3 linked regions of the Homo sapiens genome follow. The main gene of each other region encodes a partner of the protein of the gene in region 3 in a complex. Each region holds a gene or a part of one and is shown on either strand. Other genes may lie near its edges. A codon is read from its position in the direction of its gene.

Region 1 (7,065 bases), on a different chromosome or scaffold from region 3:
TATTCCGCTTCTGGGCTGGCGGCGAGAAAGGGCCCCAGGCGTTCCCCATGAGCCGCCTCTGGGACTCGCGCCTGCGCCACTACCTGGGCTCCCGCTACGACGCCCGGCGCGGTGTCAGCGACTGGGACCTGCGCATGAAGCTGCATGACCGCGGGGTGAGGGGCCCAGGAGAGGGGCTGGGGGCCTGGACCCCTGGGTCTGAGGGAGGAGGGGCTGGGGGCCTCCTGAGTCTGAGGGAGGAGGGTTTGGGGGCCTGAACTCCTGGGTCTGAGGGAGGAGGGCCTGGGGACCTGGACTCCTGGGTCTGAGGGAGGCTGGTGTAGGGGTCTCTCCACGCTCGGTTCACTGAGGGCTCCCTTCTTCCCGCCCCCCACCCCAGGCTCAAGTCATTCACCCCCAGGAGTTCCGACGCTGGCGGGACACAGGCGTCGCCTTTGAACTCAGGGACTCCAGCGCCTATCATGTGCCCAACCGGACCCTGGCGTCCGGTCGCCTCCTGAGCTACGTGCGTGTCCACTGCCTGTCCTGGCCCACTGCTGCTGCTCGGAGTCCTAGGAGTCAGGGGCCCCAACATCGACCTCACCTGCCTCCTCTCTCCCTCCTTTTCCAGCGTGGGGAGCGCGTGGCAGCGCGCGGGTACTGGGGGGACATCGCCACGGGGCCCTTCGTGGCCTTCGGCATCGAAGCGGACGACGAGAGCCTCCTGCGGACGAGCAACGGCCAGCCAGTCAAGGTGCGCGGCGAGGCTGGGACTGGGGGTAGAGGTGGGGCTGGGGGTCGGTGGGTGCGCAAGGCCCCGCCCCCACAGCAGGCCCCGCCCCCAGCTCCAGACCCCGCCCGTCGCTTGGTGGGAACGACTCCATTCAGAGAACAGGCCCCATCCCCGCGGGATAGGTCCCGCCCCACTTCACATCCTCCAAGCAGCTGCGGGAGTTCTAGTCCTGGACCGAGGACTCCCAGCGTTCTAAGCCCCGCCCCGCCATCCTGGCCCCGACGTCTGGCCACGCCCCTTCTACTGTTAGACGGCCGGGGAGATCACTCAACACAACGTGACGGAGCTGCTCCGCGACGTGGCCGCCTGGGGGCGCGCGAGAGCCACCGGGGGGGACCTGGAGGAGCAGCAGCACGCGGAGGGAAGCCCGGAGCCAGGGACTCCAGGTAAGCCAGGGACAACAACAGGTAAGCCAGGGACTCCAGCCTCCAGGTGTTTCACACTGGAGTGTGGACTGACATGATTTGGAATGCCTGGGCAAGTGACGGCTTCTTGATATTCTGTCTCTTTTTCTCTCTTTCTCTCCCTTTCCTAAATTCTGAGAGCATGCTTAGAATTCTGAATTCCACTAGCAGAATTCTAATCTTATCTGCAGAGGGCTAAGCTATCCAAGAATATTCTCACAGGGTGCTGGGTCCCAGCTCCCCCTTGGACAGCCTCCCACACCCTGGATCCTGGCTGGGCCTCCTTCCAGCCATCCTCCAACCTGGCCCTCCCTGCGTGTCTGTCTGACAGGGCATGTCACATGTGGCCCTGGCCACCCACCCTCTTTCCCTCTCTAGAGTCTCAGTTGCCTGATCTGTACAGTGAGTCTCTGCCTGCCAGGCTGACCTTCCCAGAACTTTCCAGGAGCCTACCTTAGAGGATTTTTTAAAAAGCTGCAAGAGGACAAAAAGTGTTATCTCCAAGTCCTGTGTGCCTGCCCAGCTCTGCCCAGCTCTGTGTATCTCTCTGGTTTTCCGCCCTTATGGCTCCGCCTGTCAGAGGTGACCCCTCTATCCCCTTCCCCCAGCAGCCCCGACCCCGGAATCTTTCACCGTCCACTTCCTGCCGCTCAATTCTGCTCAGACTCTCCACCACAAGAGCTGCTACAACGGCCGATTCCAGCTCCTCTATGTGGCCTGTGGGTAAGCGGGGAGGCAGCTGTGCTCACAAAGACCCAGGATCAGGCCCCCAGCCCCTCCTCCCTCAGACCCAGGAGTCCAGGCCCCCAGCCCCTCCTTGCTTAGACCCAGGGGTCCAGGCCCCCAGCCCCTCCTCCCTCAGACCCAGGAGTCCAGACCTCCTGCTCCCTTCTTTCCCCAGGACCCAGACTCCAGTTTTGCCACCCCTCCTCCCTCATTGTCTGGGATCCCAGAGCCCCATCCTCCCTCCGGATTTGGAGCTGAATCTCAGCCTGTCCTCCGTCCTCTCTGCAGTATGGTCCATCTTCTCATCCCTGAGCTTGGGGCCTGTGTGGCACCCGGAGGGAACTTGATTGTGGAATTAGCCCGGTGAGTCAGTGGGGTGGAGGGTGGGGAACATCCTGGCTGGGGATCAAAATCTGGGTCCCTGACAGGGCGCTTCCCATCTGCAGGTACCTGGTGGACGTGCGGCAGGAGCAGCTGCAGGGATTCAACACCCGGGTCAGGGAGCTAGCTCAGGCAGCTGGATTTGCTCCACAGACCGGGGCCAGGCCTTCAGAGACCTTCGCACGTTTCTGCAAGTCCCAGGAATCAGCTCTGGGCAACACTGTCCCAGCTGTGGAACCCGGAACTCCGCCCCTTGACATCCTGGCCCAGCCTCTTGAAGCCAGCAACCCAGCCCTTGAGGGCCTGACCCAGCCTCTGCAGGGTGGGACCCCACACTGTGAGCCCTGCCAGCTGCCCTCTGAGTCTCCAGGTTCACTCTCAGAGGTTCTGGCTCAGCCTCAGGGGGCCTTGGCTCCGCCCAACTGTGAGTCAGACTCCAAAACTGGAGTCTGACCCAACCCCTAGACACCCCTTATCTCCAACTTCCAAAGTCAGGTTGTAGGATGAGAACCCGCTGATACCATTCTAAGTCCGCTGCTAGAGTCCTCAATTTTATTCTAATCATTCCCACTCAGTACCCGCCACCCCCACCCCGGGAGTGTTGGTAGACTTTCAAATTCCATTTCTGAGATTCTATGGTCTATTCCTAGAATTCTAGATTGTTCTCTCAGAATTCCAAATTCCACTTCTGAGGCTCTAAGCCCAGCCTAGGATCTGACACTGAGTCTCAGGCCCTTGACTTTGGCCCCCTTGTTCCCAGGCACCCTGTGGCTGACTAGGGGCTGGGGTGTCTCCTCACCAGGGCCTGGTCAGCACCCAGATGGTTCAAGTAAAGCAAGTTGTGTCCACCCTTCTGTGTGTCCAAGCGTCTTTCCTGTCCTATGTCCGTCTCCAGGGCTGGGAGAGAAAGGCCCAGGAGTGCTGGACAGAGGAAGCCAGAAACCAGATTCCTGGGTTTCCAAGTGGACGAGGGATGGATTTCCCAGTGCTATTGACTGAGAGCTAGCCCCGAGCACAGCTGCATCCTCAAATTAATCAACAACATTTATTGAGTGGCCTGGACTCCTGGGTCTGAGGGGAGAGGGATTGGGGTCCTGGACTCCTCGGTCTGAGGGGAGAGGGATTGGGGTCCTGGACTCCTGGTCTGAGGGAGGAGGAGCTGAGGGTGCAGACTCTTGAGTCTGAGAGAGGAAGTGTGCTGGGGGCCTGCCTGGACTCCCTTGTCTGAGGGAGGGGCTGGGGGCCTGGACCCCTGGGTCTGAGGGAGGAGGGGCTGGGGGCCTGGACTCCTGGGTCTGAGGGAGGAGGGGCTGGGGCCTGGACTCTTGGGTCTGAGGGAGGAGGGGCTGGGGCCTGGACTCTTGGGTCTGAGGGAAGAGGAGCTGGGGGCCTGGACTCTTGGGTCTGAGGGAGGAGGGGCTGGGGGCCTGGACTCTTGGGTCTGAGGGAAGAGGAGCTGGGGGCCCAGACACTTGAGTCTGAGGGAAAAGGGGGCTGGGGGCCTGGACTCCTTGTGTGAGGGAGTGGCCAGGGTCTCCCAGGGTCCTGGGACTGAGGGAGGAGGAGGTTGGGAGGTCGGGCATTCTCTGGGTCTGAGGGAGGAGGGGTCTAGGACTCCAGGATCAGAGGGAGGAGGGTCCGGATTCCTGTGCCCGGAGGTGGCTGGTGATCCAGCTGGAGCAGGGCCCACCCCGCCCCTCACGCGCCCCCGTTATCTGGCATAGTGGGCAGGGGGAGGAGGAGGTGACAGTATATTTAGTCTGTGTCCTCGCCCTTTATCTCAGTGTCCTCGGGGAGTCTCAAGCAGCCCGGAGGAGACTGACGGTCCCTGGGACCCTGAAGGTCACCCGGGCGGCCCCCTCACTGACCCTCCAAACGCCCCTGTCCTCGCCCTGCCTCCTGCCATTCCCGGCCTGAGTCTCAGCATGGCGGATGGGTGAGTGATGCCCCAAGGCAGTGGGAGTTGGGGGCGACCTCCCGGGTTCCCAAGAGGGGTCGCAGCTGAGAGGCTGGACCCTTGGCCTGCGAGGTAGGCGTAGGGACTCTTGGGTGAAGAGAGGAAGTGGGTTTGCGAGTCAGACTCCTGGAACCCAAGGAAGGGGAAGCGCGGTCCCCCGACCTCTTGTTCAGAGGGGACTCCAGGGGTCCCTTAGGAGACAGGACACAGCCCACCACTAACCCCCCTCCTTGGTTTCTCTCCTTCCAGGAGCAGCGATGCGGTGAGAGCAGCGGGCTAAGGCGTGGCTGGGACCCCCAGGGCCAGGGTGGGCGCTGCAGTGAGGGGTCTGGGGCGGGAGGCTGCAGCCCTAGCAGAGGGTGCGGTACGGTAAGGGCTGGGTGGGGTCTTGGTGGTGATGGGGTCCCCACTCCTCCTAACCCAGGCTAGGGAACCTCGCCCTGCACCAGCCCCAATCAGACGCCGCTCCTCCAACTACCGCGCTTATGCCACGGAGCCGCACGCCAAGGTGGGACGGGGCTTCCTGGGGGCAGAGTACAGGCGCCGGAGGGATCCAAGACCCTGGGAGTGGGGGGAGGAGCCAGGGCTGCGAAGGGGGCGGGGACTACGCGGAGGGGCTTCAGGGGCGGAGTTTTGCAGAGGGTCATGCTCGGATTGGTGACAGCAGCCTGCGGGCGGAACTCCGTTGCCCTCGGACTTGCTTAGGGATAGATGGGAAGTGCCTATCCAAAGGAAGAGACCCAGATTGGTGGATGGGAATGAGGGGCGTGGCCTCCCGTAGACTCAGGGCTCAAGTTGGACGTGGGCCCAAATCTGGACCGGCTGGGTTTGCTGGGGGTGTCTTGAGGTCCCCTCCACCGTCGTCTCCGAATCCCCCTCCATGATCCTTCCTTGCTCCATCTCACCCTGGCAGAAAAAATCTAAGATCTCCGCCTCGAGAAAATTGCAGCTGAAGGTGAGGACGGGCGGGACTGGGAAAGAGCAGGCAGGTGCTCAGGGGGCGGAGCTTGAGAATGGGTGGGGCTTTCGGGGTAGGTGGGCGGAAGTGGGCGGGGTTTGGCCGCTCGGGGCGTGGCTTTAGCGGGGAGTACTGCTCGGGGTGGGACGGGGCCTTGGAACAGTGGAGACCAAACTGGAGGGTTTAGAAGGGCAGAGGCGGTTCCCCACGCCTGGTCTTTATCCTGAAGCCCCGGGTGGGCTGCGCTTCCCTCCCACCCCTCTGCAGACTCTGCTGCTGCAGATTGCAAAGCAAGAGCTGGAGCGAGAGGCGGAGGAGCGGCGCGGAGAGAAGGGGCGCGCTCTGAGCACCCGCTGCCAGCCGCTGGAGTTGGCCGGGCTGGGCTTCGCGGAGCTGCAGGTACCGGCTCCCAAGGATGCGAGGTTTCTAGTCCCGGAATTCAGCAGTACAGCCTCTATCCCCTCTTCTGCTCGGGACCCAGGCGTCCAATATGGCTGTCCTTACCCAATTATATATGGTTCGTGGGACTCCTGGCCCCTAACACCCTTTGTGTGCAGGTCTGTGGAGTCTTGGCTCCAACCTACTCCTTCAGGACCATGTGGCCCTCCTATCCCAGACAGAAGCCCAAGCCCCAGCCCCTCCTCCCTCAGACCCTGGAGTCCAGGCCCCAGCCCCTCCTCCCTCAGACCCAGGAGTCCAGTCCCCAGCCCCTCCTCCCTGAGACCCTGAAGTCCAGGCCCCAGCCCCTCCTCCCTCAGACCCTGGAGTCCAGGCCCCAGCCCCTCCTCCCTCAGACCCTGGAGTCCAGGCCCCAGCCCCTCCTCCCTCAGACCCTGGAGTCCAGGCCCCCAGCCCCTCCTCCCTCAGACCCTGGAGTCCAGGCCCCAGCCCCTCCTCCCTCAGACCCAGGAGTCCAGTCCCCAGCCCCTCCTCCCTCAGACCCTGGAATCGAGGCCCTCAGCCCCTCCTCCCTCAGACCCTGAAGTCCAGGCCCCAGCCCCTCCTCCCTCAGACCCTGAAGTCCAGGCCCCAGCCCCTCCTCCCTCAGACCCTGAAGTCCAGGCCCCAGCCCCTCCTCCCTCAGACCCAGGAGTCCAGTCCCCAGCCCCTCCTCCCTCAGACCCTGGAGTCCAGGCCCCAGCCCCTCCTCCCTCAGACCCTGGAGTCCAGGCCCCAGCCTCTCCTCCCTGAGACCCTGGAGTCCAGGCCCCAGCCTCTCCTCCCTCAGACCCTGGAGTCCAGGCCCCAGCCCCTCCTCCCTCAGACCCTGGAGTCCAGGCCCCAGCTCCTCCTCCCTCAGACCCTGGAGTCCAGGCCCCAGCCCCTCCTCCCTCAGACCCTGGAGTCCAGGCCCCAGCCCCTCCTCCCTCAGACCCAGGAGTCCAGTCCCCAGCCCCTCCTCCCTCAGACCCTGAAGTCCAGGCCCCAGCCCCTCCTCCCTCAGACCCAGGAGTCCAGTCCCCAGCCCCTCCTCCCTCAGACCCAGGAGTCCAGTCCCCAGCCCCTCCTCCCTCAGACCCTGGAATCGAGGCCCTCAGCCCCTCCTCCCTCAGACCCAGGAGTCCAGGCCCCCAGCCCCTTCTCCTCCCTCAAACCCAGGAGTCCAGGCCCCCAACTCCTCCCTCAGACCCAGGAGTCCAGGCCCCCAGCCCCTTCTCCTCCCTCAGACCCAGGAGTCCAGGCCCCGAGCCCCTTCTCCCTCAGACCCAGGAGTCCAGGTCTCCCTGTTTTTGGTTCCCCCAACAACACACACCACGTTCCTCCTCCAGGACTTGTGCCGACAGCTCCACGCCCGTGTGGACAAGGTGGATGAAGAGAGATACGACATAGAGGCAAAAGTCACCAAGAACATCACGGAGGTGGGACG
Region 2 (7,202 bases), on a different chromosome or scaffold from region 3:
GAATAGCTATCGCTAGATCAAACAAGTTCAAACCTGTCCCCTTCCCAGGAAACTGTCTGAGCATCTCATACCCAAGCTAGGACTGGAAATATTAAAACTGAAATTCAAATATGCTCCTTGCAGAGTGGCTCATGCTAGAGCTGAAGGCTAGCATTTACATGCTATATTAATGAACGCAGTTATATTAACAAAGTGGTTTATTAAAGAACTATAGAGATGGAACCTGTTTTGCCCTAAAACTAATATGTGGCACAATGGAAAGTTGGCCTACGGGTCCCCCAGCCCTGAGATACGTGCTCCCAGCTCTTAACAGTTACCTTTTCATGCAGGTCATGGAAGTCGCTGTAGCGGTGCTTTACTGTCCACTCATGGCTGCCATCAGTGACCTGGATGATGTAAACCTAAAAGGGGAAACCAACAGCCCTTGTGGCAAGGGAGCCCAGCAACAAGGAGTCTCCTCCCCCAGCAGCAAAAGCTGCAATTATCTTTCCCAATTATCTTTTATCAGTCTTTCTCTCTGCAACTCAGACCCACCCCAAGGCCAAAGTCAGGCTGCCCTTGCCCACCAGCCTCTGCACCTGACCCTTGCTGACCAGCAGGGCCCCTCTCAGCTTCCTCCATGGCCCAAGCACTAGGGCTGGGAGGCACATGAGACAAGCATGTGGCTCCATCCATCAGTAAGGAATGAAAAAGGTGATTACCACAAGTCACCTCTTTAGTTTTTTACCTCCTGCCTCTAGGTAACTCAAAACCCAACCGGAGCTGCAGGCAAGGCCATTTCTTCCAAGGGAGGCAGAGCAGGGCCAGTTCTAGCCTGAGCATCTTCTCTGTTGTACTTCTTTCCAGGTGCCCTGACTACCTCCTGGAAGCAAGTCATTTTCCAACCCTTTCAACTGGTTCATGGCTGTGATTTCTGCTGCTGAGCCAGGAATCAAGGCACAAGCAGCTGATGTGGGGAGGGAGTGGTAGCAACTAAGCTCTATCAGGAGGCAATATGGCCTAGAGGTTAAGGAAGGCCTGGGTTAAAAACCTGGTTCTGCCATTTCCTGGCTGCAGCTTATGTGTCACTTATATAAGTAACTTGGAGCCTAAGTTCTCTCTGAGCCTTAGTTCCTCCATCTTAGAATCAAGGACCAAGTAAGGCAATGCATGTAAAATGCTTTGTACATGGGCCTGACCCATGGCAAGTGTTCAAAAGGTAGGTGTGTTAATAATGTCCAACTCGGCACACCCGGAGACAGAGGATGGTAGGGTCCAAACTAGATCACCACCTCCCCCGACATACATGCAGAGGAGGGGCGCAGTCCAGAATAGGGTGAGCTTTTTGAAGATGGCCCTCTGGCTGAATGTGCCCATAGCTGATGGCCAGTCAGCCATCAGCTTAGAGACCTCACCCGCCTCCTGCACCTAGTTTCCCCCTCCTCTCTGCAGCATGGAGCTGAAGCCTCCTCCAGCCCTGAGGAGCAGCCATTTCTCCAGGCTGGCCTGTTGCTTCAAGATCCACCCCTCTCCTCTTCCCATCCTGCCTGATTCCTTCCCCTTGCCTTCAGGAAAGGAGAAAAGAGCCAGAAGAATGGCCCTCAGAGCGGAAGGTTAGGATGAGGGCCAGGGAGGGGAGGTGCAGGCAGGCCCAAGGCCCCCACCCACTCCCTACCCTGCGGGAACAAAGGGGAGGAGGCAGGGAGGTGCTCTATGCCTAGTCCAGGGCCGGTTTTTGCCAGGCAGCCCACCAGGCTCACAGGCCTGGCATCCAACCCCGTCAAAGTCGGGAACTACCCGCTATTTGTCCTCTGTCTCCCCCATAGCTTAGAAGTGTGTGTGGGCAGCTTGTTGCCCCATCTCGCTCCCACAGCCCAAAGTCACGAAGATTCCTAAGGCTTATAGGGCCTGCGCTTTAGCACTGAGACCACCCCCATTTCTCCATAGATGGGCTCCACCCCTCCTCCGGTCTTGTCTCCGCCCGACCCCCAAGGCATCTGCTCCCCAGGTCTCTCCTGCACTTCTCAGAGAAAATCTCAACCACCACCTCAGGCTCCCCAGATCAGGGTCCTGACGCCTTCTCTTTCTTCAAGGCCTGCGAAGCCTGACCCTTTTCCCTGATTCCATCCATCAGAGACCCTCTCCCCATCGCCTTCCTCCTGGACCCCTGTAACGGTCTTCCAGGCCGGGGCCCCTCCAGTCCTAGAGGATCTAGAGGGGTTCCGCCTCATCTAGACACCCCCCTCCCCAAGCCCCCTTTATCCCCAGATGCCGCCCCCAACCCGAGCCTCCCTTTCTGATCGCGTACCCTTTTCCAAACCGCCTCCCCGGGCCCCGAGCAACCCTTCTCCCGGACCTGCGGGGCCCAGATCCCTTTCCTAGATCCCCCGTCCCAGCCCCCTCCTCGCAATCGCAGACCCTTCTACCCGCTCCTCGGGGCTGCAGATCCCGGACCCCTCCCCAAGCCCCCGAGTCGGACTCCCGGTTCCAGCCACCACCCCCGCTTCGGGTGCCCGCGCCCCCAACACACCGTATAAGTGTCCACAAGCTCCGAGCCCACGACGCGCGCTTCCTTGGCCGGCTCGGCTTCCCGCTCGGGCCCGAAGGTGCGCGCGGTCGCCATGTTCGGGTCTCCGCCGCCACCGCCGCCCGGCGCAGACTAGCAGCAGCAGGGGGCGGGGTCAACGTCCCACCGCCCCCCGGCCCCCGCCGCCCGTCGCCCCCGCCGCGCGCTGCGCCGCCATCTTGGCCCCGCCTTCTTCCTGCGCCCTCGCCCCGCCCCCGCGCGTGACTGACAGGGGCCACTCAGGGCGCGCGTGCGAGGTGCTCGCTTGCGTAATCTACCTGCGTGGCGCCGCCGGCGGTACCCTGCACAGCCTGCTAGAAACTGAGACCCCGGGTGGTGACAGCTCTGGGCATCGCCCCTGGGTCCTCGGGAAGAGGGGACAGAAGGTCCCGAGTCTCCCAGGCCACACGAAGCAAGTCACTGCTCTTCCTGGCCTCAGTTTACTCCTCCTGATAAAGGAGGCCATAATAGTGCCTCACCTGGCTGTTGGGCTCTTTCTCTTTAGGGCAAGGCAGGTTGGAGGGGAAAATAGGACCTGTGCTTACCGCCGGAGCAGGGCGAGAGTGATTCTGGGCCAGTTCTGAACCTCTCTGAGATTCGGAGATCTCTTGTCAGTGGGGCTTCTGGACAACTGAGTGGGTTGATTGATGCGCGGCCCAGCACGCAGTAGTGCTCGAGGCAGGGAGCGTGTTTATCAAGAGGGATAAACTTGATACGAACTCTGTACGAAGGAAGGTGTAGGTGGATGGAGGGGTGTGTGCTGCCACTGAGCACAAGAACCCCACGGGGTGGCCTGCCAAAGTTCAAAACGAGGGAGACAGGTTGATCTGGACCCAGGAACTACAGTGCTGAATCCTAAACCGGGGAAAGATGAGACCTAGAAGAGGGAGGTGGTAACCTAATTGGAGGGTGAGGAGGGAAAGAGCCTGCCACAGATGGGGCATCTATAGGGGTGCTGTTGAATAACTGAGAGCAGCTGACTTAAGCCCGAAGTGGGTACTTCTCCCTGGGCAGATGGGAGGTCTGGGACAGGCTCCTCTGGCAGAAGGGCTCCTGGCCACCCTGTCCTAAGGTGGGTCAGTCACTTCCTCCTTCACCAGTTCCACAGCATCTTACTATGAGCTTGGCATTCGAGGCTTCTCTTGGCAGGGCCCTGCACTCCTAGCCTCTCCTTGCACATTGCACCCCCATTCCAGAGAGGTTTAGTTAAAGGCGGGGGTTACCAAGTCAGTCAGATCTTGGGCAAGTCACCACTCCTCCAGAGCCTCAGTTTCCTTATCTGGAAAGTGGAGGTCATGGCAACCCGCCAACCTGGTTGGATGGGAGCCTGAGCTGTTGTGTTGCACCTTGCCTGGGGCCCACGACTTTGTAGCTCCTGTCCTGCACTGGGCTTATGTTTTCATTCATTCCAGAAACCTTTTCAGAGAGTCCCTTTGGGGAGTGTGGGGGACAGGAGGGAAAGAAACCTGGTCCTTGTAGCCGTTCGTCTGCTCCCTGCCCTGGGCAGAGGACGTGGGGACTCAGGCCAGCCTGAGATCACTGGGACCAGAGGAGGGGCTGGAGGATACTACACGCAGGGGTGGGCTGGGCTGGGCTGGGCTGGGCCAGGAATGCAGCGGGGCAGGGCTATTTAAGTCAAGGGCCGGCTGGCAACCCCAGCAAGCTGTCCTGTGAGCCGCCAGCATGGATGACATCTACAAGGCTGCGGTGAGGGACAGGGCTGGGTAGGGCTGGGGTGGGCAGGCCCACTGGGGGCTCACTCAGCTGAGAGTGCGGGGTTAGTAGCCCCAGGGAAGTGGTGGGGACCAAGGAGAAGGCCTACGTGCCTTCAACCCAGGCCCTCACAGGGACAGTGATTCTGGTGTTTGAGGATGCAGAAGGGGTAGGGGGTTCCGGGTCTGAAGGGTGGTGGAGGAGGTTGCAGCTTTCAGCATCGTGTCTCACTCTCTGTTTCCAAGTGTCTGTGGTCTGTGGCACTGTCGCTCAGCCACATGTCTCTGCATTTGTCTCTGGACGTTTTTGCCTTTCTCTTTTCATCTCTTCCTCCTGAGCTGTCTGAGTCCCCATTACTGTCTCCCTGTCCCCAACCCCCATTTCTGCCCCTCACATTCTGCTTCTCACATGCTCAAAATCTGCCACCCCACTCCAGCCCCTTGGCGGGCCGAAGATGCTTTGGAGGGTGGAGGGTGTGAGAGGAGGGGTCTGTAGAGCCTGAGTCCTGGGCTGGAGATGGGGCTTTGAAGTTTGAGGCAGGGAAGTTCTGGACATGAGGGAGAACCAAGGAAGAAGGAACAGAGAACTGGGGCCCCAGCTCCCATCATGCCTGGCAGGCTCAGGGCTCAGTGGCTTAGCTAGGGGTGAGAGCGAGGGAATGAGGGCTGGAGAGTGGTCACCCCAAGCCCCTGCAACCTCCTGGGTCACTGAGGGTCTTCAGATGCTATTCTATCCTGGGTGGTGGTGACCTCCCCCAACCCCAGAGCAAGGACATCCTGGCATGGCCAGCTGTCCCCAGGGGAACCCCTCCCTCAGCCTCCCTCACTCCTGGGCAGGGAAGTGCTATAGCCAGCTCTGGGGGCACGCCTGCTTATCCTGTGGGAGTCCATGGAGCCGGGGTTGGGACAGCCCTCCACCCAGTGCCCATACAAGGCCTGGCGGAGTTGGGGACTAATTTTGGCTTCTGAGGCGGCACTAGCAGGCCAGGGGGCCAGATAACGCTGCCCCACCCCCTGCATGCCAAAGTCCCCAGAACAATCACCAGGTTTAACTTTGTTCCTCGTTAAAAATAGCCCAGTGGCCACCCTGGTCAGGTTACCGTGGGTGGCTTGCCTGCCTCCACACTGGTTTTATTATCCCAACTTGAGGGACAGCTGTCCTTCGGGCCACCCAGCTTGAGTTTCATCAGGGGCCGAAAGGGCATTGAGTGGTCACTGACTATTGTTACTGAGGGTCACCTTGGTCCTGAAGGGGGTGCCCACCTGTCACCCTGGCCCTGAGCCCAGTCGCAGTGAGGCCAGCTGGGTCACGTCAGGGCTTTGGGGGCAGGGAGGGAGGACTGAGACCTCCACTCTGTGGCCTGGAAATAGCCTGCCTCCTCCAGCTCCAGCCTTCTCACCTGTGGAATGGGTTGGTTTCCTCAGCAGCAGCTATACCTGAGTCTGAGCCTTGAGATTCCCTTTCCTTTCTAGGTAGAGCAGCTGACAGAAGAGCAGAAAAATGGTGAGAATCCCTATCACACATGTGGGAGACCAGCGGGTCCAGGCTGGCATGGGGACCCCTTATCAGAAGAGGACCCCAGGCCAGAGACCAGAGGCTTGGTCCCTCTTGCTCTGCCCTCAGAGAGGTCTCCGAGGGAGGTGGGCAGGTTGGCAGGTGGCCCCAGGGTTCTGGCCCTCCGTGGTCCTGGCTGCTGAGCCCTGACTACTGTGCCCCCCAACCCCTGAACACAGAGTTCAAGGCAGCCTTCGACATCTTCGTGCTGGGCGCTGAGGATGGCTGCATCAGCACCAAGGAGCTGGGCAAGGTGATGAGGATGCTGGGCCAGAACCCCACCCCTGAGGAGCTGCAGGAGATGATCGATGAGGTGGACGAGGACGGTGAGCCCCCTCCTCCCCAGGCTCCAGAAGAACCCCAGCTGGCTGGGGGCTGGAATGCTGGCTCTGTTTAGCTGGGAGCAATTTAGCCTATCCGAGCCTTGGTTGCCTCATCTATAAAATGGGCATAAGGGCTACACAAGCCTGGCGTTTGGTGTGAGGATGCGGTGAGAACATGGGGGTTCGTGTCGAAGGTGCTGCCTGCAGTACCTACCCTGGCCTCTGTAACGGCCATGCTGCCCACCCCCAGGCAGCGGCACGGTGGACTTTGATGAGTTCCTGGTCATGATGGTTCGGTGCATGAAGGACGACAGCAAAGGGAAATCTGAGGAGGAGCTGTCTGACCTCTTCCGCATGTTTGACAAGTGAGCACGTGACCCTTGACCTCTGACCCTGACCCACACTCAAGCCGAGCTGTACAGGAGGGCAGTCTCAGATTCCAGGCCTAGGGACCCTGTGGCCTCTGCCTGATAGGGGAGAGGGATGCCCCATCTCCCAGTGTCCCTGCTCTGCCTCCTGGGGCATGGGTGGGGCTGCCTCATGCCCTCCCCACAGCCCTACCCTGAGCCCCCTCCCCACAGAAATGCTGATGGCTACATCGACCTGGATGAGCTGAAGATAATGCTGCAGGCTACAGGCGAGACCATCACGGAGGACGACATCGAGGAGCTCATGAAGGACGGAGACAAGAACAACGACGGCCGCATCGACTATGATGGTAAGCGGGTGGGTGGGCTGATCTCCTGCCTCCATGCCCTGCCCAGCCCCTACCCTCAACCCACACCTGCCCCTCTTTCCACAGAGTTCCTGGAGTTCATGAAGGGTGTGGAGTAGATGCTGACCTTCACCCAGAGCTGCCTATGCCCAGCCTCCAACTCCAGCTGAGTCCTGGGGTTGGGGAGGGGGTCGGGGTCCCAGGACCTGAGCCTGGCCATGTCCTCAACCCCAAATCCCCCGACTCCCTCCCCAGATCTGTCCTGGGGGATGCAAATAAAGCCTGCTCTCCCAAGGTCTGCTATCTGGCTCTGGTGTCCCTGGGCCGTGGACTCATCCCCAGGACCCACTCT
Region 3 (7,649 bases):
GGTGAAGGCTGCAGCATGACGATGACTGCAGCAATGACCCACCATGACCATCTATGCATTGGGATTTCATCCTACGGACACCACATCCTACAAGTGATTTCACCTAAGCTCTAGGAGCTTCATGTGTGGATATGACTTCTGGGTCCCATTGCTCTGTCCAGACCAGGGGGCTGGACAATGGTCCCCTCTCCCACTGGGTGCCACCAATGCAACTTCTCTGGGAGAAGGGGCAAAGTTGAAAGCTCAACATCTAAAACTTTGGAAGTGCCACCAAGTTCTGTCCTCTCCTCTCCCAAACCCTCTCAGTGCACATCCACTTCCCTGGAAAGAGCACTGTGGGCATTCTCCTCCAAAGCTGCTGTGAGGGGTTCCTTTGCCTCCCTTGTACCTCTCTCCTGATATCCTTACCTTCAGCCTCCTTTGCTTCCTCTTCTTCTTCATCTTCTAAATGAAACACGAGAAATCAATCAAGGTCCTTGTTCTGAGCTCAAGTCCCCCCCTCCGCCACCAGCAAGAGCCTTCCCCACAGATAAGCCCTAGCCAAGATGCACTCTGTTGGTTTTTGGGGTTACAGAGCTGTCTCTCACACACACATTCCCCTGGACCCAAGACTGCCTGACACAAGAGAAGCGCTGGGTCAACGTTTGTTGATTGGGCAATCAATGGTTGAATCTTAGTCAATAGGAGAGTCAGGTGCACATGGGAAAGCCTGTTCTGGGGGGTTTCTTACTGCCTCAGGAATGGCTCCAGGGGCTCTCGCCACCCCCTGAGGCCCCTGCACCCTCAACCAGAGACTTACCTTCTGCCCTGGTCTCCTCGGTCTCAGCCTCTGCTTCAGCATCCTCTTCCGCTGCCTCCTCCTGCTCTGGAGAAGTGAAGCAGACAGAGTGAAGAAGCAGGCCCCACTCATGCTATCAGGCAGAACCCAGAGCAGAGAATGGGCAGCGGGGAGTGGGGATGGGGGTCAAGACGTCTAGGTCCAGATGAATTTGGGGGCAACCAACGTGCTGGGGGGCTGCCATTCTTGGTTTTGACTGTCGGCTACCTCCCGCCACCCAGCTTAGCCCCACTCATCCCGGCAACCTCCCTGATGATGGGACTCCACCTCATTCCCCAACTTTCCAGCCCAGAAGTTCCACCCCGTGTCTGGCACCACAGAACATGCTCTGCTTAAGCCGAGGTGTCCAGAAGCTCCTGTCCTGAACCTAGTGACTCTAGACACCCTCAATCCACATCTCAAAGAAACCAAAAGAGTACGACTGTGTGGCTGGATGGCACACTCAATATCTGGATCTTCGTACTATCCAGAAAGTGGGCAGGATTTTTCTATTTTCATCTATTTGTTTGGCAGGATGTGGCCCCCATCTCACTCAGGCACTTGGTGTAGACAGACAGACAAACAGATAAGGGAGACAGGATGCCGCCTGGCCTGGGCTGTGCCTGTAGGAAGTGTTCTGTGATGCCTGTTCACTGATGCACTGGGAAGTGGGTGCCTCTTGGCAGAGGGAGAAGAAAAACCTCAGACAGGAGGAAGACACCATCGTGGGAGAAGGGTTGGCCTTCATTCCCTCTGTCCTCCCTTCCCAGGTCTGAGTCCTCTCTGAAGCCTGGAGATGCCTTTTATTTGATCCCTGCAGGAGTCTTACCTCAAAATGATCCTTCTAGAAAGTGTGAAAGCAGAGGGCTAGCGAGGAAGGACATGGCCATTGTGGGGTCTACCTTTAGGCCATCTTGTTCACACCTCTGCCACCTCATCTGACGTGTCATTTCTCTATATAATATACCCCAGCCCACCCAGTGGCCATGCAACATCCCAAGGATGGGGAGCTTACTGCCTCCCCAACCCACCTACTGCATCTTGAGATATAGCTGTCAGAACGCACTTTCTAAAATTAAGCCCTGGTCTCACTCCCTTGCCTTGGTCCTGTGCTCCCCATCAGCAGGGCGCATCTGAAGGCTGACGTCATGTCCTTCCTGCTCTGGCTATTTCCAGTCTCCCTGGCTGCTCTCCAGAGGACTCTGTCCCCAGACCCCCCAACCAACACCTGGCCACCCTGCTTGGTGCTGTCCAGCTCCTAAGGAGGGCCCAGCATGGAACACTGGGGTGTGCGCGGGGGCAGGGTGGCGCTGCTGTCTTCCAGGTGCCAGGTCCCCTCTATGGCCACATTTGGAGCAGCTTGGGAGACCAGCTAGCCTTGGTCCCTCCCACCACCCAACCCAGGGGAAGGATCCAGGAACCAGGAAGAGGAGCCAGTGGCCCTGAAGTTCAGGCATGATGATCAGCTTGGAACTGTGATCCTGGCCCCTGGGAGGCAGGGGAGGAAACGACTGACCCACTCCGTCCCTGCCGCCTACTCACACCCCCCAGCCCCCAGAACAGGGCCCCTGGACAAGGAGGCTGCACTTGGGACAGCAGGCAGCAGAAAGCACCACAGAAGGAAAGGCTGTACTACCGTCTTCGTCCTCTCTCCAGTCCTCCTCTTCTGAGGTTCAGGGAGTGGCCGCAGCGGAGGGGAAAAGCGAGACAGGTTAGTCTGGGAGCAGAGAGCCCGCGGCAGGAGCAGCCACCCAGCGCAGTGGTTTTAAGAGTGTGGGCTTTGGAGTTAGGCCGGCATTCCAATTCCCAAGCCACTACTTTCCAGCAACAGGGGCAACTCTCAGTTACTTCCCTGAGCCTCAGGTGCCTCATCAGTAAAATGGGAATCATTCTACTCACTTCTCAGCCGTGGTGAGGACTGAATGACCTAGCGTGCATAGAGCGCCCAGCAGGTGCCTGGCACAAGAGGAGCATGCGATCTGTGGTAACTGCAATGCCTCTAGACGACAGAGCCTTGGCCTCCTTCTTACTAAGACAGAGGCCCCTAAAGAGCAGAGAGTGGGGGACAATTCTCTTCCATCAAATTTCCTGCCCTCAACGAGCCTGCCCATGTTCCTGCTCTGAATGAGGCTCTTGGGTATCCTGCAAACTATGTCCAGTTTCCAGGAGTCACACTTTAGAAAGCCTCATTGGAGAGCCTGGCCCCAGGGGAGATTTGCCCGGCCTGTTGGGAGGATGCTGCCCCATCTAAGAAGGGTCCAGCATTATAAATCTAAGGAAAGAGGCTGCATCTACAACAGTTGTTCTACGTACAAATATCTGCCCAAAAAAACAGTTCCAGCAAGTGGAACAATTCCTCTCCTGGAAGAAGGACACCTGGCATTATCTATCCTGCAGGCTTAGTGGACACCCATCTAGACGTTGCTCTCTCTTGATCATTTGCAGCCAGATCCTCAACTGTGTGGGAGGCAAGTCTCGTCTATTCATGGCAAGCAAGGCAGATGCTACACGGCTCAGGCCCCAGCACAGTGGAGAATGACTCTGCTAACTCACAGCCAAATTCTACTGTGTGTGGCAGGCAGATTGGTCCCAAATCCAGAGATCTATGTCTCAAACTCCACCACCCTAAACCTGTTATAAGGAAGTGGAAAATCCTCCAAAACAAAGGAAGGGATATCATATCAAGAGTCTGTTCAGGGAACACAGCAGAATTTGGAGCCAGTTAGATTTTTTATTCAAAAATATATTTCTGATAGCTTCTGAAGTATCTGGTGTTCCTTAAAAACCAAAAAAGACGCCTGTGGCCTCTTTCAGTTTCTCCTGTGAATTTCTCTTCTGTCTCCTCTTTGGCCAGACAGCCCTGGAACAGCCCTAAATGTGCAGGAGGGTCCCCATTTTCCCTAGGAGCCATGGGGAGCAAGGGCGGGGCCACCTGGGCTCCCCCCTTGGACCTTCATAGAGACCCTTCTCCTAATATCTACATGCCACATGCTGAAGTGATACCTGAGCCACTAAAAGGCAGGGTCCACCTGCCTGGGGTGCAGGGGGAGGACTGGAGTGAAGCCTCTGAGTCATTTCCATGTGCCAAGCTCTCAGGAAGAAGGGAAGGTGAGGGCGTTCTTTCAGGGAGATGTGGGACCCACAGCTGAGGAGGGCGATGGGTTAACCGATCAGCATAGGAGCAGCAAGAGGGGCCTCTGCAAGCTCAGAATCATGACAAATCTTCATGCCGAGATAAGACGTCTCAGATCACTGAGCAATTTCATACTCACAATCGCATTTGAGAAATTACTAAATGGAATCTTTTGGGGCATATCATGGCATTGTGGTTATGGTTTTTAAGTAGTGCTTATCTCTTAGAGATACGGTGTAGCGAAATCTTGAAGCGTGAACTGACATGGTGCCTGGGAACAATTTTGGATGTCTGCTCCAAAATAACTGGTGGAAGGTGGAGTATAGAGGAAAGAAGACTGGCCCTAAGATGATGATTGTTGAAGCTGGTAATGGGTACCTTGGGCAGGGGGGGCCATTATTATTATTATTGCTACCTTTATGTGCATTTAAAATTTCCCATGATAAAAGGGAGAAGAAGCAAAAAAAATTGGGAAAAGTGATCAGTGTGTTTGAAGCAAATGGCAGACAGAAGAGACAGGTTTAAATCGTTTGCCTCAAGACCCGAGCAACCCAGGTAGGACTGATTCCCATTTTAGAAGGCACTGTTGTTGGAGGATCTTGCTCAGCTGAGAGTGAGGAGCAGGGACAGATGAGCTGCTTTCCCAGGGCTCCCAGGATTTCCACATTGCTGAGCCTGCCCCTTTCTGGCTCTCCACCTGCCTGAGGCACATACCTTCAACAGCTGCTTCTGCTCAGAAGAGAAGTCCAGGCAGCAAGAGAAGAGAGAAGAGGTGGGTCAGTTTCGAACCAGGCTGTCTTTGATCCAAATGAGTACACACGTTTACGCTTACCTTCCTGCTCCCTGAGAGCAACAGGAAACACTGTCAGTAGCTCGCACACAAGCACATGCAAACACACACGCCTGCACACACATGCACACACTGGCCTTTCCCCAAAGATAATCCCCCTTTCTTTTCCCTTGTTGCCTAGTGGAGTCCACGCTGCCCTGCCCACCTTGCAATGACACCCACTAGCCTGGCCTGCCGTTCTCATGCAGGGCTGCCTCCTACCATCCTCCGCAAGCCTCCGCCCCAGCCAGCTTGGTCTCACCAGCGTTCTGCTCACTTACTCTTTCCATCTTTGCCCAAGCTGTACCCCTTTCTAGAAAGTCCTGCCCTCTCCCAAATCTCTTATCTTTCCAAATTCTACACAGGTAAGACCTGCCTTCTCCACACAGCCCCCTGACTATTCCAGCCCCTGATCTCCCTCTCCTCAGAACTCCTACACTACCAACAGCCCGCCCTCCACACCAGGCCCCCAGTTGCTAATTTCTTCTCCCAGTTTATGTCTTAACATCTCAACAAGAGTAAGTTCTGTGAGGGCAGTAGCCGTGCCTATACCTCTGTCTCCTCCCTGGTGACCACTATCCTCTGTAGTTATTGGATTGGCTGTGTCCCACCCCCTGGTTTCCCTCTGGGATAGGACTGTGGGCAGGGCACTGTCATGAGAGAGTAGGGATCCAAGACAGGGTGATAACACTGGGTTCTGAGCTGGGGTTTGGGGGGCATAATCAGCTCTGTGCCTCTGGAGAGTCACTGAACCTTCCTCAGTCAGTTTCAGGAGACCCAACATCTCAGCTTCTCTGTTCATGGCCCCTAGCCAAGACTGGCCAAGGACACTGATGACCCTGGAGCTGAACCTCTGTGCTTCCCGAAGTCTCTCGGCCTGTGCTCTGCCTGGGATCTACAACCCAGGGGTACAGGAGTGGAAAGGAAATGGCTATATCTCTCCTCGGGGTGCCCAAAACACACACAGCTACTTCTACCCAGAATCCGAGGGACAGCTGGGAGGCTCCTGGACCAGGTGTCAGGGCAGCGGCGGGAGAGGACCCCACTCAGGCAAGATGCTCCAGATACTCACTCCTCCTCGTACTCTTCCACCACCTCTTCTATGTCAGACATGGTCTCTGCTCTCCCTCCAAAAGGAGAAAAAAGTCAGTGCAGGTACAAAGGGAAGCCTGCCTTCCTCAGAAGAGCTCTGGCCCCCGTTGTACAGAGATCAGCGAGGCCTAGGGTGAATCTAGTTCCACCCCTCATGAGCTGTGTGACCTGCAACAAAAAGCCTGTTTTCTCCCCTGCTGGGGGAGATAGTGACACCCACATGGCAGCAAGGCCACCTGCTGATGTCCACTTCGTTCCTTGCCCCTGAACAGGCAATACTGCCTGGGATGCTGCATTTCCATTTGTGACACTCAAGACAATGTCTGCAGTTTCTCAACCTTTCCATCCACTCTGCCCACCCCCACTCCACAGGATCTGTTCAGCACTGTACAAATCTTCACTGCACAAAGCCTCACTGCAGCCTCAACCTTCTGGGCTCAAGCGATTCTCCCACCTCAGCCTCCTGAGTTGCTGGGACTATAGTTGTGCACCACCATGCCCGACTAATTTTTGTATTTTTAGTAAAGCTGGGATTTTGCCACATTGCCCAGGCTGTTTCGAACTCCCAGGCTCAAGGGATCCTCCTGCCTCAGCCTCTCGAAGTGCTGAGATTACAGGCGTGAGCCACCACACCCATTCCATGTGTGCTGGACAAAAGTGAGACCTGGACAAAAGGTCTTTGGGCACCCCAAGAGACTGGCCTGGACAAATGAGTGAGAACTTGTCTCTAAATAAATAAATCAAAGCACACAGCGGGGATCCTTGTGGTTTGGGATCTTTTCAGTATGTAGACTGTGGTGATGGATACGTGAACCTCCACAGGTTAAAGTTGTTTAGAGTTTCACATACACATGGTGCAATTGTGGGCAAATCTGAATAAGATCATAGATTGATTGTATTGATGTCCAATCTTGGTTTTGATATAGTACTAATTTTGCAAATGTTGCCCTCGGGAGAAACTAGGCACCGTGTGTAAACGCTCGTTATTAAAGACAACTGTGTACTAGTCTTTAATTATGTCAATGAAAATTCCGATTAAAAAATGTTCCCCCAGGGAACTCATTCTGAGATCATCTTCTCACTGCACTGGGAACAGATAATCTAGATTCAGATCCTCTTCCATTAGCTTGCCGAGGGTGTTTAGGCGAGTCTTTTTAACATCTCCAAACCTCAGTCCTTTCTCTGTCTCATGGAGATAAAGTGTACACATCCTGGCTACTCAGGGTCTTTACGAGGCTCCAGTTGACATTAACAAAAGGGGAAGGCATTAGGCAACATCAGGTGTTACAATGAGCATGTAATCACAGGGAGGGGGCAGAGAGCAAGCACTTGAGTGTGAGACTAATCTCGTTTTGAATGCTGGCTCCAGCATGCGTTTGCCTGCGACCTTGGCAAGGTCACTTAACCTCCCCACATCTCAGCTCTCTTTGCTGTGAAATTACTGCTCTTCTTGGGTAGGTGTGAGGAACAGAGGTAGTGTGAAGTGTAGGCATTCAGCTAATAACTACTATGACCCAACCCTCCGGGGCCATGACAGTGCACTGCTCCAGGGACACAATCACGTTGTTTGAAACGTGAACAGCAGCCTCTGTTATAGTGCAATATGCCAGCTCCACAGCCTTCCTGATGTTGGCTTCCAAGGGAGAGAATGGACAGGGTGATGTGAGAGTGAGGCTAAAGTGAGGCGGGAGAAGAATCCAAATGATGCTCAGGACCACCCTCCAATGCTCCTCCCCTGCTGCCCACCTCCTGCCCCACTCACGCGTGCCAGTGCTGCA

Evidence for each region. Proteins that work in one complex are often made in the same cells at the same time.
Region 1: the proteins of TNNT2 (region 3) and TNNI3 are in contact, whole or in part, in a crystal structure (PDB 4Y99), measured with the Homo sapiens proteins. Residues at the interface, in NP_001263274.1 of Homo sapiens: Glu214, Lys217, Lys218, Ile221, Leu222, Arg225, Arg226, Lys227, Leu229, Ile231, Asp232, Leu234, Asn235, Glu236, Leu239, Arg240, Ala243, Lys244, Leu246, Trp247, Ile250, Tyr251, Leu253, Glu254, Ala255, Glu256, Lys257, Phe258, Asp259, Leu260; in NP_000354.4 of Homo sapiens: Arg68 (codon at 5,517), Glu71 (codon at 5,526), Lys72 (codon at 5,529), Ala75 (codon at 5,538), Leu76 (codon at 5,541), Arg79 (codon at 5,550), Gln81 (codon at 5,556), Pro82 (codon at 5,559), Leu83 (codon at 5,562), Leu85 (codon at 5,568), Leu88 (codon at 5,577), Gly89 (codon at 5,580), Phe90 (codon at 5,583), Leu93 (codon at 5,592), Gln94 (codon at 5,595), Leu96 (codon at 6,971), Arg98 (codon at 6,977), Leu100 (codon at 6,983), His101 (codon at 6,986), Arg103 (codon at 6,992), Val104 (codon at 6,995), Asp105 (codon at 6,998), Val107 (codon at 7,004), Asp108 (codon at 7,007), Glu109 (codon at 7,010), Glu110 (codon at 7,013), Arg111 (codon at 7,016), Tyr112 (codon at 7,019), Asp113 (codon at 7,022), Ile114 (codon at 7,025).
Region 2: the proteins of TNNT2 (region 3) and TNNC1 are in contact, whole or in part, in a crystal structure (PDB 1J1D), measured with the Homo sapiens proteins. Residues at the interface, in NP_001263274.1 of Homo sapiens: Gln266, Tyr269, Asn272, Val273, Asn276, Arg277, Asp280; in NP_003271.1 of Homo sapiens: Asp99 (codon at 6,478), Phe101 (codon at 6,484), Arg102 (codon at 6,487), Asp105 (codon at 6,496), Ala108 (codon at 6,721), Asp109 (codon at 6,724), Gly110 (codon at 6,727), Tyr111 (codon at 6,730), Arg147 (codon at 6,838), Tyr150 (codon at 6,847), Asp151 (codon at 6,850).

The regions. Positions count from the first base shown.
Region 1 is NC_000019.10:55,154,733-55,161,797, reverse strand, and holds the start of TNNI3 (troponin I, cardiac muscle), read left to right. Parts: upstream 1-4,065; 5' UTR 4,066-4,208; coding exon 4,209-4,219; intron 4,220-4,489; coding exon 4,490-4,502; intron 4,503-4,664; coding exon 4,665-4,748; intron 4,749-5,153; coding exon 5,154-5,195; intron 5,196-5,465; coding exon 5,466-5,597; intron 5,598-6,967; coding exon 6,968-7,057; intron 7,058-7,065. Other genes in the region: DNAAF3 (dynein axonemal assembly factor 3), read left to right, coding at 1-155, 380-505, 611-733, 1,023-1,158, 1,788-1,899, 2,191-2,265, 2,349-2,736. UniProt on the Homo sapiens protein: Troponin I is the inhibitory subunit of troponin, the thin filament regulatory complex which confers calcium-sensitivity to striated muscle actomyosin ATPase activity.
Region 2 is NC_000003.12:52,451,042-52,458,243, reverse strand, and holds TNNC1 (troponin C, slow skeletal and cardiac muscles), read left to right. Parts: upstream 1-4,202; 5' UTR 4,203-4,228; coding exon 4,229-4,252; intron 4,253-5,730; coding exon 5,731-5,761; intron 5,762-5,991; coding exon 5,992-6,138; intron 6,139-6,385; coding exon 6,386-6,500; intron 6,501-6,716; coding exon 6,717-6,853; intron 6,854-6,937; coding exon 6,938-6,969; 3' UTR 6,970-7,144; downstream 7,145-7,202. Other genes in the region: NISCH (nischarin), read right to left, coding at 318-401, 2,510-2,602. UniProt on the Homo sapiens protein: Troponin is the central regulatory protein of striated muscle contraction. Tn consists of three components: Tn-I which is the inhibitor of actomyosin ATPase, Tn-T which contains the binding site for tropomyosin and Tn-C.
Region 3 is NC_000001.11:201,367,363-201,375,011, forward strand, and holds part of TNNT2 (troponin T, cardiac muscle), read right to left. Parts: intron 6,040-7,649; exon of another isoform or gene 5,907-6,039; 5' UTR 5,893-5,906; coding exon 5,852-5,892; exon of another isoform or gene 5,757-5,851; intron 4,794-5,756; coding exon 4,783-4,793; intron 4,680-4,782; coding exon 4,665-4,679; intron 2,484-4,664; coding exon 2,454-2,483; intron 866-2,453; coding exon 800-865; intron 445-799; coding exon 409-444; intron 1-408. UniProt on the Homo sapiens protein: Troponin T is the tropomyosin-binding subunit of troponin, the thin filament regulatory complex which confers calcium-sensitivity to striated muscle actomyosin ATPase activity.